2 separate regions of the Homo sapiens genome follow, and region 1 is linked to region 2. Evidence: fine-mapped expression QTL. A gene starts in region 2. The other region holds a variant in brackets. All regions are shown on one strand. Distances are between the middles of the regions.

What was found.
Region 1: its variant is fine-mapped to the expression of WDR55 in testis (GTEx, PIP 0.95).

Annotation. Positions count from the first base shown.
Region 1 is chr5:140,728,631-140,736,966 of GRCh38, forward strand. It overlaps LOC105378198 (a long non-coding RNA gene), which reads left to right. Exons shown (of 4, transcript XR_001742904.2): 2 at 3,467-3,530; 3 at 4,455-4,937. Among named protein-coding and RNA genes, the nearest start is that of ZMAT2, 32 kb to the left of the region's middle. The variant C/T (reference allele first, on the strand shown) is at 3,805.
Region 2 is chr5:140,661,655-140,669,990 of GRCh38, forward strand. WDR55 (WD repeat domain 55) reads left to right here and starts at 3,250. Exons shown (of 7, transcript NM_017706.5): 1 at 3,250-3,449; 2 at 6,580-6,680; 3 at 6,761-6,848; 4 at 6,958-7,137; 5 at 7,237-7,336; 6 at 7,425-7,594; 7 at 7,679-8,336. The coding sequence starts at 3,259. The coding sequence ends at 8,000. IK (IK cytokine) reads left to right here. Exons shown (of 20, transcript NM_006083.4): 17 at 1-54; 18 at 245-353; 19 at 525-559; 20 at 648-826. The coding sequence ends at 675. It overlaps LOC124901088 (a long non-coding RNA gene), which reads right to left and starts at 3,783. Exons shown (of 2, transcript XR_007058968.1): 1 at 3,711-3,783; 2 at 757-3,503. RefSeq lists enhancers at 2,661-3,327, 2,745-2,904, 3,255-3,384.

The DNA of each region.
Region 1 (8,336 bases), 67 kb after region 2:
CTTTCCGTCTCTATAAATTTGACTACTCTAGGTATCTCATAGAAGTGGAATCATACAGTAGTTGTCTTTTTGTGACTCGTTTATTTCACTTAGCACTATGTTTTATTTTGTTTTGTTTTGTTTTGTTTTGAGATGGAGTCTGGCTCAGTCACCCAGGCTGGAGTGCAGTGGCACAATCTCGGCTTACTGCAACCTCCACCTCCTGGGTTCAAGCGATTCTCCTGCCTGAGCCTCCCAAGTAGCTGGGACTTCAGCCTCCTGCCACCATGTCCTGCTAATTTTTTGTAACTTTACTAGAGACTGGGTTTCACTCTGTTAGCCAGGATGGTGTCGATCTCCTGACCCCATGATTCTCCTGGGATTACAGGCATGAGCCACCGCACCCAGCCAGCACAATGTTCTTAAGGTTCATCCACGTTGTATCATGTACTACAATTTCATTCCTTTTGAAAAAGGATAAATAATATTTTATTGTATGTGAATACTACAATGGAATACTATTAAAATGGAATGTTTTGTTTAGTCATTGTCCATCAATGGACATTTGGGTTGTTTTGACCTCTTGCCTATTATGAACAATGCTGCTATGAACATGAGTGTACAAATATCTGTTTGTGTTTCTGCTTTCAATTCCTTTGGGTATATACCCAGAAGTGGAATTGCTGGGTTATATGGTAATTGTACTTTTAATTATTTAAGTGACTGCTGTACTGTTTTCCATAGCAGCTGTATCACTTTACATTCCCACCAATAGTGCAGAAATGCTTCAATTTCTCCATGTCTTCACTAACACTTATTCTCTCTCTCTCTGTGTGTGTGTGTGTGTGTGTGTGTGTGATTGATAGCAGCTATCCTGAAGGGTGTGAGGTTGTATCTCCTGTGGCAGCTCATTTGATTTTAATCTTTCTTAATCATTAGTGTATTTAAAACTGCAAGTTTACCTTTAAGTACTGCTTTAGTTGTAGTACACAAATTCTTCATGTAGTGTTTCATTCACTTCTAAGTATTTTTTAAGCAGAATCTTATTTAGTAATATGTTATTTAGTTTCCAAACACATGGGATTTTATTTTAGCTATTGTTTTTACAAATGTTAATTCCAGGATGCATTGTAATAGGAGAACATTGTCTGAATGGGATCAGATCTGTGGAATTTATAGCCTAACACATGGTCTATTGTTGTAAGTGTTATATATATATTCAAAAATAATGCCTGTTTATTTTGGGTCTACATATTTTTAAAATTGTTTTTCTTTTCAGCTCATTCATATCCATACTATTTTCAGGTCTATGTGATCTACAGTCCTTAGAGATGCATATTAAAACATTTCCAACTACAATTGGTGATTTATGTATTTTTTCCTATTTGATGTAGTTCAAGACTGTATTGTAGATGCATGTATGCTTATGATGACTGTATCAATTTTCTACTGTTCACTAATTAAACATTTTTAAACTGTGAGATATAACATACATGCAGAAAATTCATGAGGTAAATACATAGATTTAAATAAATGCTTATAAAATGAATCCATATAATCACTACTAAGGTAAGAAAACATTGCCAACATCCCAGAAACCCTCTCTCTCTTTTGATTTTTACAATCCCTTCACTTTCTTTTGGAATTAACCATTCACCTGATTGTTTATCTTATTTATTTTTATTGTATTTAGAGAAGATGGTCTTGCTATGTTGCCCAGGCTGCAGTATAGTAGCCATTCACAGGTATAATCATAGTGGCAACAGCCTTGAATTCCTGGGCTCAAGTGATCCTTTTGCTTCAACCTCTCCAGTGCTGAGACTGTAGGCATGCACCATTGTGCCCAGCCCTGTTTACCTGATTTTTATTTATTTATTAATATTTCTATTACTATTATTATTATTTTTGAGACAGAGTCTTGCTCTTTCACCCAGGCAAGAGTGCAGTGGGGGTATCTCAGCTCACTGCAAGCTCTGCCTCCTGGGCTCAAGTGATTCTCCTCTCTCAGCCTCCTGAGTAGCTAGGATTACAGGCATGTGCCACCATGCCCAGCTAATTTTTGTGTTTTTAGTAGAGACAGCGTTTCAATATTTTGGCCAGGCTTGTCTCGAACTCCTGACCTCAAGTGATCCGCCCACCTCGGCTTCCCAAAGTGCTGGAATTACAGGCGTGAGCCACTGTGCCCGCCCCCTCCATTTACCTGATTTTTATAATAATAATTTTCTCACTCTTCTTTATATCTTTACCACTTATGTATGAATGCCTGGGTGCTATAATTTAGTTTTCCTATTTTGATTACTTTCATAAATATAGTTATATTGAAGTGTTTGTTTTGTTTTGCTTCTTTTGTTCAATAATACATTTGTAAGATTTATCCATTTTGTTTATGTTGTGGGTTACTATTCCATTTAATGAATATAAGATGATTTACTTATTCATTTTAATATTGATGGATATTTGTAGCATTTCTAGTTTTGGTTCATTGTTCATAATAACTGAAACCCAGAAAAAACAGATATTCCCATCTTATACATATGTCCTGCGGCACTTCAGCATATATTTCTCCAGGGTACATACCTAGGAGTCAAACTGCTAAGTATTTAGTGGATTCATGTCTTCAGTTCTATAGTTTTGCCCAGTGGTTTTCCAAAGTATTTCTACCAGCTTACACATCTACCAGCAGTGTATCATGTCCCCAATATTTGGCATTGTACAACTTTAAAAATTTTTGTCAATTTTATGGCTGTAATTTGGTACCTCATTGTATTTTCATGAAAAAAGACAAAATCTTCATTTTAAGTATATAGAATAAATTCACATAATGTATTTTCTTTTTCTTTTTCTTTTTTTTTTTTTTTGGGACGGAGTCTTGCTCTGTCGCCCAGGCTGGAGTGCAGTGGCGCGATCTCGGCTCACTTCAAGCTCTGCCTCCCGGGTTCAAGCCATTCTCCTGCCTCAGCCTCCCCAGCAGCTGGGACTACAGGTGCACACCGCCACGCCCGGCTAATTTTTGTATTTTTAGTAGAGACGGGGTTTCACCGTGTTAGCCAGGATGGTCTTGATCTCCTGACCTCGTGATCTGCCCACCTCGGCCTCCCAAAGTGCTGGGATTAAAGGCGTGAGCCACTGTACCCGGCCCACGTAATGTATTTTCTTATTTAACCTTGAATGCTGAATAGTGTGCGTCTTTTTTTAAAAATACATCTTTAGATAAAATAGTATATTTTCAAAAAAGTACCCAAATCATAAATTTACAGCTCTATGAATTAATACAAAGTAAAGAAAACCATGAAATCACCACATGTCTATAAATAGGACTGTTCCATAAAGCCCTTCTAGAGCCTCCTGTAGTCACTTCTCTCACACTTGTCCTCAGAAGAAAGCCTTGAGGTGATTTCTAATATTACGATTGTTTTGTTTTTTCAACTTTGTATTAATGGAATAATACGTGACTGATTTTCTCATTCCTCCTTATGTTCCCATCCAGGTACTAACCAGGCCTGACCCTACTTAGCTTCCAAGATCAGAGGAGACCGGGCACGTTCAAGATGGTATGGCCAAAGACCCTCATTATGTTTCTAGATTCATCTATTTTGTTGTGCGTAGCAGTTGCTTATTTGCATTGCTGTATGGAAAGTAAGTCAAAAGACTTAATACTTTTGAAAGTAGAAATACTTTCGAAAGCAATTTGGGCTCCTCAATATAGTATAGGTTATGAGAGCTACAACAGTGCTTAGCAAGAGGTTTGGAACATAGAAAGTGTTTATTATACTTCTTTTTTTTTTTTTTTTTTTTTGAGACGGAGTTTTGCTGTTGTTGCCCAGG[C/T]TGGAGTGCAGTGGCAGGATCTCGGCTCACTGCAACCTCTGCCTCCTGGGTTCAAGTGATTCTCCTGCCTCAGCCTCCTGAGTGAGTAGCTGGGATTACAGGTGCGTGCCACCACGCTCAGCTAATTTTTTGTATTTTTAGTAGAGACGGGATTTCATCATGTTAGCCAGGCTGGTCTCGAACTCTGACCTCAGGTGATCCATCCACCTTGGCCTCCCAAAATGCAGGGATTACAGGCGTGAGCCACTGCGCTTGGTCTATACTTCTTATATTTGCAGGCAAATACCTTTTTACATTTGACAAATTGCCTTTTTATTTTTGCTTGAGTTTCCCTAAATAAAACTTCCTTGTTGTACTTATGCATGGTTCTATAATGGTGAATCAAGCCATTTACATTGGTGAATGAGAAATTGCATATTTCATGAATGCATGGAATAGTTTATGGTATTTATTCAAAATATTACACATACTTCTGCTTCCAGGAAGGTGGAGTAAATGTAATATTCCCCATTCATCCTGCTAAAACCCCAAAGCATTGTACATAAAACAAATGTAATACAATGAAAGGCAGACAAAAGGCAGACCAGCTAGGGATCTCAAGACTCAAGGTACAACACAGTCGTAAGTTTTTTTTTCCTTTTGTATTCCAGACTTGGAACTGAAGAAGCTGGCAATCTGGAAATGCCAATGGACGCAGATTTTAAAAGCCCCAGCAAAAGTCTGCTTTCTCTATTCATAGGACCAGGATCAGGAAGAGGACAGCTTAGAAAGACATAAAATTCTTAGACAATAACTGTTCTACCCCAGCCAAACACCAAACACACACACACACACACACACACACACACTCCAACAACTATGGCCCCACCCACTTCAGCAAAGGCTGAGTAGGAGCCTAAACTTCCACCACTGAGCGGCTATAAGAAGTTACCCCAAGACCCCACCAACGTGGTGTTAAAGAAGGCCAAATAGGGGACAAAATTTTTATCCATGCTGACCAGTTATGAGGTTCCCTTTTTCCCTCTGTGAAATAAAAATAAAGCCCGTAGGTCCCCAGGCAAGATGAAATGGACTCCTTGTTGCAAAAGAGACCCCAGAAAACTTTAAAAGCTGGATTCTATGGCTTTGGCAAGGTAAGAGTTCGGTCACACCTCAAAACTCCCCTACCTCATTAACTGCTTCAAGACTTTCTTTCCTACAGTTAAACGCCTGGGACTACAGTCATGTGCCACCATCCTAGGCTAATTTTTTTTTAAAGGTTTTTGTAGAGATGAGGTCTCAGTATATTGCCCAGGCTGGTCTCAAACTCTTGGGCTTAAGCAATTCTCCATCTCGGCCTCCCAGAGTGCTGGAATTACAGGCGTGAGCCACTGCACCAAGTCAGAAAACTGAGTTTTAAGAAGATTAATATTTTTATGTTTATGTAGCTTTCTGTATTACTTTTAAAGTCTTTTGATTGTCACTTCGGTTAAATGAATATTATTTTACAATGACCCGTGATCCTGTTTTGATCAAATATTTTGGGCCTTTTAACATCTTTGACAAACATCCTCAAAATCAATCCTAAATTAAGTCTTTTTACTTAGAATTAACTTTAAGATTTTCTAATTGGGCCCCTAAAAAGCTTCAACAGATATATCTCTCATTTTATAGAGATATTTTAAATGATTAGGCTTATTTGGTAAATTATATAAAAACATTGTCAAATAATAAGCAATACTAGATCTTCTTTTAATTACACTATGATATGTTGTTGATATAAATGGTTCAAAATTTATATAAATTCAGAAAGATCTAATGTGTTATCAGTCATAATTTTGGTTGTTATCTTAAAATACTACATATAATGTAAATAACTAAATGTTCTTGTCAATTGAGAACTTTCATTAGATTTTAACCATAGCCATTCTAAGTTTTTGTCATCTACAGTTACTGTTTTTAATTCTTCTCTAAAAACATTTGCAATAAGCTATAATCCAAATTGCTTTCTATCGAAAAGACTTTAACATATTTGAATACCAATTTCTCACTTGGAATAACGAAGTTCTTCCCTCCGCGGAAGACTGGACCTCAACACCAGTATCTGACACCAGACTTAGACTAGGGTTCCACCTCATGGCTGAGAAGAAGATGACAGCTGAGGTGGACTGCCTGTCCAAGATGCTGGACCAGGGCTGTATTTTAACTCGCCCACTTTTGACTTAAGACAAATTACCATTGCCATTGCCTCAAGTACCTGCGTTATTGACTGATTACCCTGACGTTGGGAATATTATGTATTCTGGAGATCCTATGTTGTGCTACAATGCTTACCCTTGTATTCCATTTTTAGATACTTCTAAAATTTCTCATCCACCTCCAAGTCCAAAATCCCTTTCCCAGAGCCTATAATCCTCACTTTAGAAAACATAGTTACCATGCTCCTTGTTAATCAAATACTCCATTACCTTAAAGAATACCCCCAGACTCTAGATAGTGACCCTCAGCAATTTGTATGGAATTTATGATTTCTCTCTTGGTTTAATTTTTTTATAACTAAAATGGACTCCTCTGTTTCACTCCTCACAATTTTAGTTTTATTGACCACTTCTGTTACCAAACCCACACCTTAACCCTTACCCTTTTGAGTAAAAGGTAATTTTACTATTCTTTTGAAAAGGTTTTTGTAGAGATTAGGTCTCAGTATATTGCCCAGGCTGGTCTCAAACTCTTGGGCTCAAGCAATTCTCCCACCTCAGCCTCCCAAAGTGCTGGAATTACAGGTATGAGCCACTGCACCAAACCAGAAAACTGAGTTTTAAAAAGATTAAGATTTTTATGTCTATGTAGCTTTCTCCTTAGATTCTGGGACTCCCACCCTTGCTACTGTACATAACCACTGAATGCCCAAAGAAAAAATATCAAACACTGACAACAGCTCCTCTTTGTTAGATATCATGCCTCTGCAGGCTTCTAGAAGGCTTGCAACAAAACCAGTTCGTGGTTCACTCACATAATAGATATCTTGTTCATAAATGAACGTATAAATTGGCATACCCTTGGAGGTATAACTTGTGCCCCTTGAGGACACACTTTCCTATATAGAATTGAGTCAGATCCCCCAGTTCAAGAAGAGGCACACAGATGCATAAACAGCTGGCAAGTTGAAGGACTTTGCCTTCTAGGTCATTACGTTGCCCTCTTTTCCATCCATCTCAATCATAAAGAAAATCTTGCTTTCCGGTAAGCTAAAAGAGAGCTACCAAGTGGATATCAGGATATGTGGTAGCATAGTTTTTGGGGTGTAATTTTTCTCAGCTACGGAGTATACACTAACAGAGATACGATAAAAAAAAATGCCGGCCACCATAGGACAAATTGCTGAAAATGCTGCAATAAGTATTATGACACAGTAGAAGTCCTTAAATTCTCTCGCTCAAGTGGTTTTAGACAATCAAATTGCACCAGGTTTTCTCATTGCTAAACAAGGGGGAATTTGCATGATAGCCCACACCACTTGTTGCACTTATATCAACATTATAGGAGATTTAACAACCCATGTAGGTAAGATCACCCAACAGGCTGCCTGGTTACAGGAGGTACAAACCACAGATCCCCTTAATAACGTTTTTAGCTGACTCATTGCAGTATTAGAAATTACTTCCAATCCATCTTACAAACCCTTGTCATTATCATATCACTATCTTGTTCCTATTTTTGATAGTCAAAGTACTTATAAGATCTATAACCAACTACTTCAAGTCTGTCACTAAAACCAAAGTTATGGTAGCACAATGCATAGAAATGACAGACAACATAAACATAAACTTACCTTCTCAACTTTTCTGTTGTTACTGTTTTTCTAGTCTCAAAGGTTCAAAGGGTCTTAATAGCTGTCTGCCTCCTTCTTGCCTGGCCTAAAATATTCAACTGGTTGTAAGTCTCCTAGCCACATGAGTCCCACTGACAGACTAGATAGACCTGGGGCAGGTATCCACACCATCCTGGGAACGACATGGGACATGTTAGAAAATTTAGCCATCAATGCTGCCTATGGCAGATTTCAGCCTAAAGCTGGAAAGTGTGAAATAAAACTAAAGTCCCTAAGCCCCTAGGTGAAACAGAATGGACTTCTTGTTGCAAAAGAGACCCCAGAAACTTTGAAAACTGCATTCTATGGCTTTGGCAAGGCAAGAGGTCAGTCACACCTCAACACTCCCCTACCTTGTTAACTGCCTCAAAACTTTCCTTCCTACAATTAAACAGAAACGAGTTCCTAAAAAACTGTCTGGAAGATTTCTCCCTCAACCTCAAGAGACCTCTTGATGTCATGGCTGACCTCCCCTCTTTTATCGTGGTTTCACCATGACTACTGACCAGCCTTATTAAACATTCCATTGTTATACTGACCACCGACCACAGACTGATTGCACCTAGTCCACAGAGGCTGTGCACAAGATGCCTTTGTGTTCTGTTTCACCTTGTTATATATAAACAGCCACGTGCCACTTCACTTTACTATTAAATCCCCACCCCAAAATGAACATGGAACA
Region 2 (8,336 bases):
TGATACCCAGGAAGAATACAGCGAGTATATGAACAACAAAGAAGCTTTGCCCAAGTGAGTCGGTACTGAATATGGGCAGGGTGTGAGGAGGGGTGTGGGGATTTGGTGGAATAGTGCATATAAGGTTAGAGGGTGTGGTCTGGCTGAGATGTTCCCCACTAAGTTCTTTGCCCACAGGACTCTGGGAAAACCTCGCCACTGCTATGCAATCTCTGATGCATTCTTTCCCAACTGCTTTTTTCAGGGCTGCATTCCAGTATGGTATCAAAATGTCTGAAGGGCGGAAAACCAGGCGCTTCAAGGAAACCAATGACAAAGCAGAGCTTGATCGCCAGTGGAAGAAGATTAGTGCAGTAAGTAGGATGGCCCCTTGGGTGGGAGGGTTTCAGCTGGGAGAAGACATTAGCCTGCAGATTCAGGAACAGGCAAGGGGCTGGAGAGCCATGGAAATGAGAGGTCAGCCTTGGGCCTCAGGTGAGCTTAGATGGGCAGCTTGGTGATAGACTATCCTGTTGTTTTTGCAGATCATTGAGAAGAGGAAGAAGATGGAAGCTGATGGGTGAGCGGCATTATTCTTCCTCTGTGGGACTGGTGGGAATTGCTTAGTGTATTGATCTTATACTGACCCATTTCTCCTTCCATTGCAGGGTTGAAGTCAAAAGACCAAAATACTAATCACTAGTTACAACCAGAGATGCTCCACAAGGATATGCTCCCCACTGTTTTCTTTCTACAATTTCCAAAGGTTGCAAGATGTTTTTTTGTGGATGAATATAAAATTTTATTGTGTAATTACTTGGTTCCATTAAAATTGGTTAACTTGCTATTTTCTTTGTTGAGCATGTCCCCTCCAGTGCCCTTGAAGCACCAAGAACACTAATTCCACTGGTTGTGTAAAATCACATGCAGAAAGTCATCAGTCCTTTCCTGAGCTGTGGTTCTAGATTCCTAGACAGTAAGGATGCTCTCTAGCCAGTGTGCCCAGTAGAGAAGAGAATAATGATCCTCACTGATGGGCAAGAGGTGGATAGAGGAATGTAAGTATGATTGGTCTCAAATGTCAGACTCATTCCGGCCCATCTTCAGGCCTAGTCCCTGGGGAAAGATTTCCTGGGGATTGCTGTCAGCCTGATGGGCTGCTAATCTGATCTCCAGGCTATGAAGGACTGGGCTCTGGATGAAGGCATCTAATGAAAATCACTTATGGGTGGGAACCAAAACCTTTTATGAGTTTATGTACTATGAGCTTTATTAATGTTGAGTACAAATCACTGTCTCCTTGGCTAAAGGTGTAACCTTAGGGAAGTGCTTTGGGTTTAGAGCTGATATAGTGTGGCCCTGCAGGTACAGGAATTCCTATCCTAGACCAGAAGGGTTTGGTGCCCTTCATCACCCTGAAACATTTGCCAAGGCCCAGAATAGGTCTGTTGACCTTTGAATCACACCATTCCCTTCCCTTTTCTTCCCTTCTGCTCATTACCAGCACTTTGGCCTGGTGCTCATCATTAGGTGTCACTACTGCTTCCTGGCTGGATGCCACGCTGCCACTGTCTACCCTGAGCCCAAGATTTGTGGCCTCACCAGATCCAAGAAAGCTAGAAAGTCACCTTAGCCATTACCTTGTCTTTGATTATATTCACCTTGGTAGGACAGGTTTTTGTGAGGAAGCCAGTATTGTGCATGGCATGTAAGAGGCTGAAATTGGGCCTTGCTGCAATAGCACCTAGAATGGCTAATTTCAGACAAATGACACCATGGTTCTATGGATGTAGGTAGGCAGTCCCAATTATTAAAAATGGTCACAGAGACATGGCACAGGTGAAGACATCTGGAGAGTCACTAAAAGCAAGACCTGGAGATTGTGGGTTTGAAATTCAGTTTCTGAGGCCAGGCTCGATGGCTCATGCCCACAGTCTCAGTGCTTTGGGAGGCCAAAGCAGGAGAGTCTCTTGAGGCCAGGAGTTCATGAGTCTATAGCTATGCAGGAGGATCGAACCGAAGAGTTCAAGGCTGTAGTGAGCTATGATCACACCACTGCATTCTGAGCCTGGGTGACAGAGCAAGACCTTGATTTAAAAAAAGAAATTCAGGGGCTGGGCGCCGTGGCTCACGCCTATAATCCTAGCACTTTGGGAGGCTGAGGTGGGAAGACACGTCAAGAGTTCAAGGCCAGCCTGGGCAACATACTGAGTCCTCGTTTCTACAAAATATACAAAAATTGGCCAGGTGCGGTGGCTCACGCCTGTAGTCCCAGCACTTTGGGAGGCCAAGGCGGGCGGATCACGAGGTCAGGAGTTTGAGACCAGCCTGGCCAACATGGTGAAACCCTGTTTCTACTAAAGATACAAAAAATTAGCTGGGCGTGGTGGCATGCGCCTCTAGTCCCATCTACTCGGTAGGCTGAGGCAGGAAAATCTCTTGAACCCGGGAGACGGAGGTTGCAGTGAGCCGAGATCGCACCATTGCACTCCAGCCAGGGCGAGACTCCGTCTCAATAAATAAATAAAAATTAGCCAGGCGTGGTGCCGCGTGCCTGTAGTTCCAGCTACTCGGAGGATCGCTTGAGCCGAGCGGTGATCGTGCCACTGCACTCCAGCCTGCGCGACAGCGCAAGACCCTGTCTCAAAACAAAGCAAAACAAAAAAGAAAAAAAAATTCTTGGTAACTGAGCACTGCTTGTCCAGCCCATTGAGTTTCTGTAGACAAATTGTAGGAACTGGCACAGCAAACTGGCCACAAAGACGTTAGGGGCGTGGACACCAGCTGCTTGAGCTGCCTGCTGTCCCAGACTCCCGTATGTCATCGCGCAGCGTGGGATTTTGCGGCTTCCTGACAGCCCAGGCTGTCGCTTGACTTGATCTTGGGTTTCACCAAGCCACGAAGGACTAGCGTCCCTCTCTCCTATCCCAAGGGCATTAAGCCTGTCTGGATGAAGTAGGAGAGGAAAGATTTACACGCAGTTCTCAACTTTACGTGACGTGACTAGGGAGGGAATTGACGGTCGCACCGTCTACCTAGCCCAAACGGGGTCACAGCAGGACAAGGAAGTAGCCGATCTCCCAGATGCGGTCTCTTCGCTCCGCTCCACCCGCACCAGCAGCGGCCCACCCACCTCTCCTGTAAGAGGAAGAACGTCCCGGAGACACTTCCGGCCCCGCCCCCCGAGGCGGAAGCGGAGTGCCAGGCTACTCCTCCCGCAGTGTGGGTGGTTCCGAGGCTGACTACCCTGCGGCGGCGCGGCTCGCAGTCCTTCTCAGCATGGACCGCACTTGTGAGGAGAGGCCCGCTGAGGATGGGAGCGACGAGGAGGACCCAGACTCCATGGAAGCCCCAACCCGGATCCGGGACACTCCGGAAGACATCGTGCTGGAAGCTCCGGCTAGTGGGCTGGCGTTCCATCCGGCCCGTGACCTACTGGCTGCAGGGGACGTGGACGGGGACGTGTTCGTGTGAGAGCGGGGCAGGGCCGGGGCGCCGGGTCTGGAAGCTTCCCGGGGGTGGACCTGGGAACAGGAGAGATGAGAGAAAGTTGCAGGGAGACAAATTTTGCAAGATTCTTTGGGTCCAATTTATTCAGTAACATTCGGCTCTTCTATCACACCAATCTGTTGAAAGAACTGGAATGTCGTGACAGAGCCCAGATACCGTAGTAGGCCAAAAAGCCCTTTAAGGCCTTGTTATTTCCCACCGATTATTATTTATTTACTTACCTATTTATTTTTGAGACGGAGTCTCGCTCTGTCGCCGAGGCTGGAGTGCAGTGGCGCGATCTGGGCTCACTGCAACCTCCCCCTTCCGGGTTCAAGCAGTTCTCTTCCTCAGCCTCCCGAGTAGCTGGGATTATAAGCGCCCGCCACCACGCCCGGCTAATTTTTTTTGTATTTGTAGTAGAGACGGGGTTTCACCATCTTGGCCAGGCTGGTCTTGAACTCCTGACCTCGTGATCCACCTGCCTTCCTCCCAGAGTGCTGGGATTACAGGCGTAAACCACCGTGCCCGGACTCCTACCGGATTATTATATTGTGCCCGAGACAGGCTCAGCAGGCCCCTTTAAGTGATTTTTCAAACCACAAATCTTGGCTCACGCCTGTAATACCCGCACTTTGGGAGGCCGAGGTGGGCGGGTCACCTGAGGTTGGAGCTCGAGACCAGCCTGTTCAACATGGTGAAACCCCGTCTCTACTAAAAATACAAAAATTAGCCCGGTGTGGTGGCGCGGGCCTGTAATCCCAGCTACACGGGAGGCTGAGGCAGAAGAATCACTTGGATTCGGGCGGTGGAGGTTGCAGTGAGCCAAGATCGTGCCACTGCACTCCAGCTTGGACAATAGAGTGAGACACTCCCTTGATTAAAACCCTTCAATGGTCTGCTTTTAGGATTTAGTACAAATTTCTCAATCCTGCCTTCAACGCCCTGACCATCTGTGCTCATTCATCCATACCTTTTAAAAATACGTCTTGGGCCGGGCGTGGTGGCTCATGCCTGTAATCCCAGCACTTTGGGAGACCAAGGTGGGGTATCACCTGAGGTCAGGAGTTGGAGACCAGCCTGGCCAACATGGTGAAATCCTGTCTCTACTAAAAATAGAAAAATTAGCTGGGTGTGGTGGCGGGCACCTGTAATCCCAGCTTCTCGGGAGGCTGAGGCAGGAGAATCGCTTGAACCTGGGAGGTGGAGGTGGCAGTGAGCCGAGATCGTGCCATTGCACTCCAGCCTGGGCAACAAGAGCAAAACTCCATCTCAAAAAAAAATCTCGAAACCTCAGCCCATTTGCATGTGCTATTCTGTCCGGAAAACTCCTTTCCCCTCACTTTTACCTACTATCTCTGAGTTTCCAGGATCTCTTCCCTCTTCCTCTCTCCCCAGACTAAAATTGGTTACCTGTTAGATGCTGCCATGGCACCAGGTGCCATGGTACCTTTCCCTTAATAATGAATGGTTGGTAACCATATGTCCATTTGTGTAATTATTTGAATGCTGTCTCCTTCACTAATGTTTTTCAAACGTCTTTGACCTTGCCTCACAGAGAAATACCTTTTACATTATATATGATGCTCTGTGATACAATTGCTGATTTTATTCTATTATTGTGTACATGTACACAAAATGCTGATCGTAGCTTACTAGTCCGTTATATGACTAGAATGTGAAAAAACACTGTTCTGGAGTGTAATCTGTCATCGGTTTTGTTCTCTATTTTATCTCCAACCTCTAGTCTAGGGTAGATGCTCAACACATGTTTGATTTTGAACAAAAGATACAGGTTAGAGGCAGTGGAAAAGTTGAAGATGTTATGCTTATCAGATTTACTTAATGAATTTAAACCTCAACCCCTCATTAGCTGTAATGGCCTTGAGCGTGTTAACTTCTGTATTTTCATCTTTGAAAGGGGGAATTATACCTACCCTTGCAGAGGGGACAAGTTTGCAGTACAGCACCTAAGCAGCTCTTCAACAAATGTAGGTTCCCTTCTACTACTATCCATATTTATGGTGCCAGGCACTTGGGAGTTGCCCTAGACATCCACCTTTCTTCACATTCCACACAACTTTGTTGCTTCCCTTGTCTTAAAAAAGGTTCTGGAGGAAAATTCTTGGTTCTCCCCTTCCCCACCCTCAGCCATGACTATTGTGAAAAGGTTCCTTTTCCGAGGATTAAATTCAAACTTCTGCTTGGCTCATGTGGTCTCATGCCCACCCCAGCCCATCTTTCTAGATTCAGTCATGCTACTCTCCTGCTACAAGGAACCCTCCTCATTCCTTATCTCTGCTGCCTCCAGTATCTGGCCCTTGCTCTCTGCCAGGCAAATTCTACTCTTGTATGATCCAACCCACATGTCACCACCTTAGCTTTCCAGGGCTCTCTTCTCCCTTCCCAAGTATTCATTCAATTTGTGAATGTTTATTAAGCTACTTTTTCACGTTCAGCACTGGGATAGAGAAAATGAGCAGGCTCAGTTCTGCCTACCTGGAACTCACTGGCAATTAAGCATGTATTCATTCTGCCCTTTTTGAGGATCTGCTCTGAGGCAGGCACTTGGGGGTATTCCATAAACAGTACTCACCTCAAAGTTGTTTACAGGCTGGTGCCTCTCCCCCACCTCCATTTTGATCTTGCCTCTTTTTCAGCACGTACTCTCAATGTACTGTAATTAATTGTGGCTTTCTCTAGCTCCTGCAGACCTGAAGTGCAAGAGCCTGCTCTACCTTACTGATTTTTAGATTTCTAACTTCTGGGGCTGGTCTTTTGTCATTGATGTAACAAATATCTCCTCCACAGTGGTCCAGACCCAATCTTTGTCCAGGCTGGGGCTTTCAAAGATGATAAAGAGGGGTTGGGTGGGATCACAAAGAAATCTTGCGCAAATATACCTTGAACTAACATATATTGAAAAAAGCAGGACCTAACATTTCAAACTCACTGAAAATGGAGAAATGAGATGGTAAACTTTTTGGGCTTAGAGGTGTAGAAGCAGGAACTCTTAGGTAGGTGGGAAGGCTGCTCTGTCTAGTTGGTCTCTGCACTCAATGCAACCCAGGCTGGGTCTGGAGTCATTTACCCTCCTTGCCCTCTCCCCAGCTTTTCCTACTCTTGCCAAGAGGGAGAAACCAAGGAGCTCTGGTCATCAGGTCACCATCTCAAGGCCTGCCGAGCTGTGGCCTTCTCTGAAGATGGGCAGAGTGAGTACTGGGGAAGACAACCAGCAATGTGGTGGAAGGGAGCAGTGAGCAGCACCATGACCTGGGCACCTTTTCCCCAGAGCTCATTACTGTCTCCAAGGACAAAGCCATCCATGTTCTAGATGTGGAGCAGGGCCAACTGGAAAGACGTGTTTCCAAGGCTCATGGGTAAGGAGAGCAGCCAATTCTGTGTATGTGCATGGAGGTGAAGGGTAAGGACCAGGAGGTCCCCACTGGGACAGAGATGCTCCAAGAAGTTCTACATCTGTGTCTCTAGTGCCCCCATCAATAGTCTTCTGCTGGTGGATGAGAATGTTCTGGCCACTGGGGATGACACAGGTGGTATCTGTCTCTGGGACCAGCGGAAGGAGGGCCCCTTAATGGATATGAGGCAACATGAAGAGTACATCGCAGACATGGCTCTGGATCCAGCCAAAAAGCTGCTGCTGACAGCCAGGTACAACTTCAAAGCTGCCTTGCCTCCCCTCCCCTCCCTGTGTGAAATGTCTTCCTCAAATAGACCTTGCGTCTAAGCCTACTGCTCTACTCTCTACAGCGGGGATGGCTGCCTTGGCATCTTCAACATTAAGAGGCGTCGGTTTGAGCTGCTCTCAGAACCTCAGTCTGGGGACCTGACCTCTGTCACTCTCATGAAAGTACAGCTGGTTATGGTGGGATGGAGGGGTGTGTGCTGGGGGCTTAGTCTGAGGCAGCTTCCACATTGTTTTCTCTATTTCCCTGCAGTGGGGGAAGAAGGTAGCCTGTGGCTCCAGTGAAGGTACCATCTACCTCTTCAATTGGAATGGCTTTGGGGCCACAAGTGACCGCTTTGCCCTGAGAGCTGAATCTATCGACTGCATGGTTCCAGTCACCGAGAGTCTGCTGTGTACTGGCTCCACTGATGGAGTCATCAGGTGAGGGAAGCCTGGACAGCCCTTAGGTCACAGGAAGGGCAGACCCAGCTAGCCAGTACTCAACACTGTTCTTTCCCTGCCCAGGGCTGTGAACATCCTACCGAACCGAGTGGTGGGCAGTGTGGGCCAGCACACTGGGGAGCCTGTGGAGGAGCTGGCCCTCTCCCACTGTGGCCGCTTCCTGGCCAGTAGTGGCCATGACCAGCGCCTCAAGTTTTGGGACATGGCCCAGCTGCGAGCTGTGGTGGTGGATGACTACCGTCGGCGCAAAAAAAAGGGAGGACCACTGCGGGCTCTGAGCAGCAAGACTTGGAGCACCGATGACTTCTTCGCAGGACTGAGGGAAGAGGGAGAAGACTCCATGGCTCAGGAAGAAAAGGAGGAGACTGGGGATGACAGTGACTGAAGGAATGAATTGAATCTTGAGACGGGTCCTCACCAGGCAAGAGTCTTGCTTATTGGGCTGCATCCCCAGAGAGGATATGAATTATTTTTTGAAAAGACAGGGTTTTGCCATCGTCCAGGCTGGAGTGCGCTGGCTTGATCTTGGCTCACTGCAGCCTCAATGTCCCCAGGCTCAGATTGTCCTTCCACCTTAGCCTCTGGAGCAGCTGGGACTACAGGTGTGCACTACCACACCAGGCCAATTTTTGTTTTTTTTTTTTGGTAGAAACGGGTCTGTTTTGCCCAGGCTGGTCTTCAACTCCTGGACTCAAATGATCCACCTGCCTCTGCTTCCCAA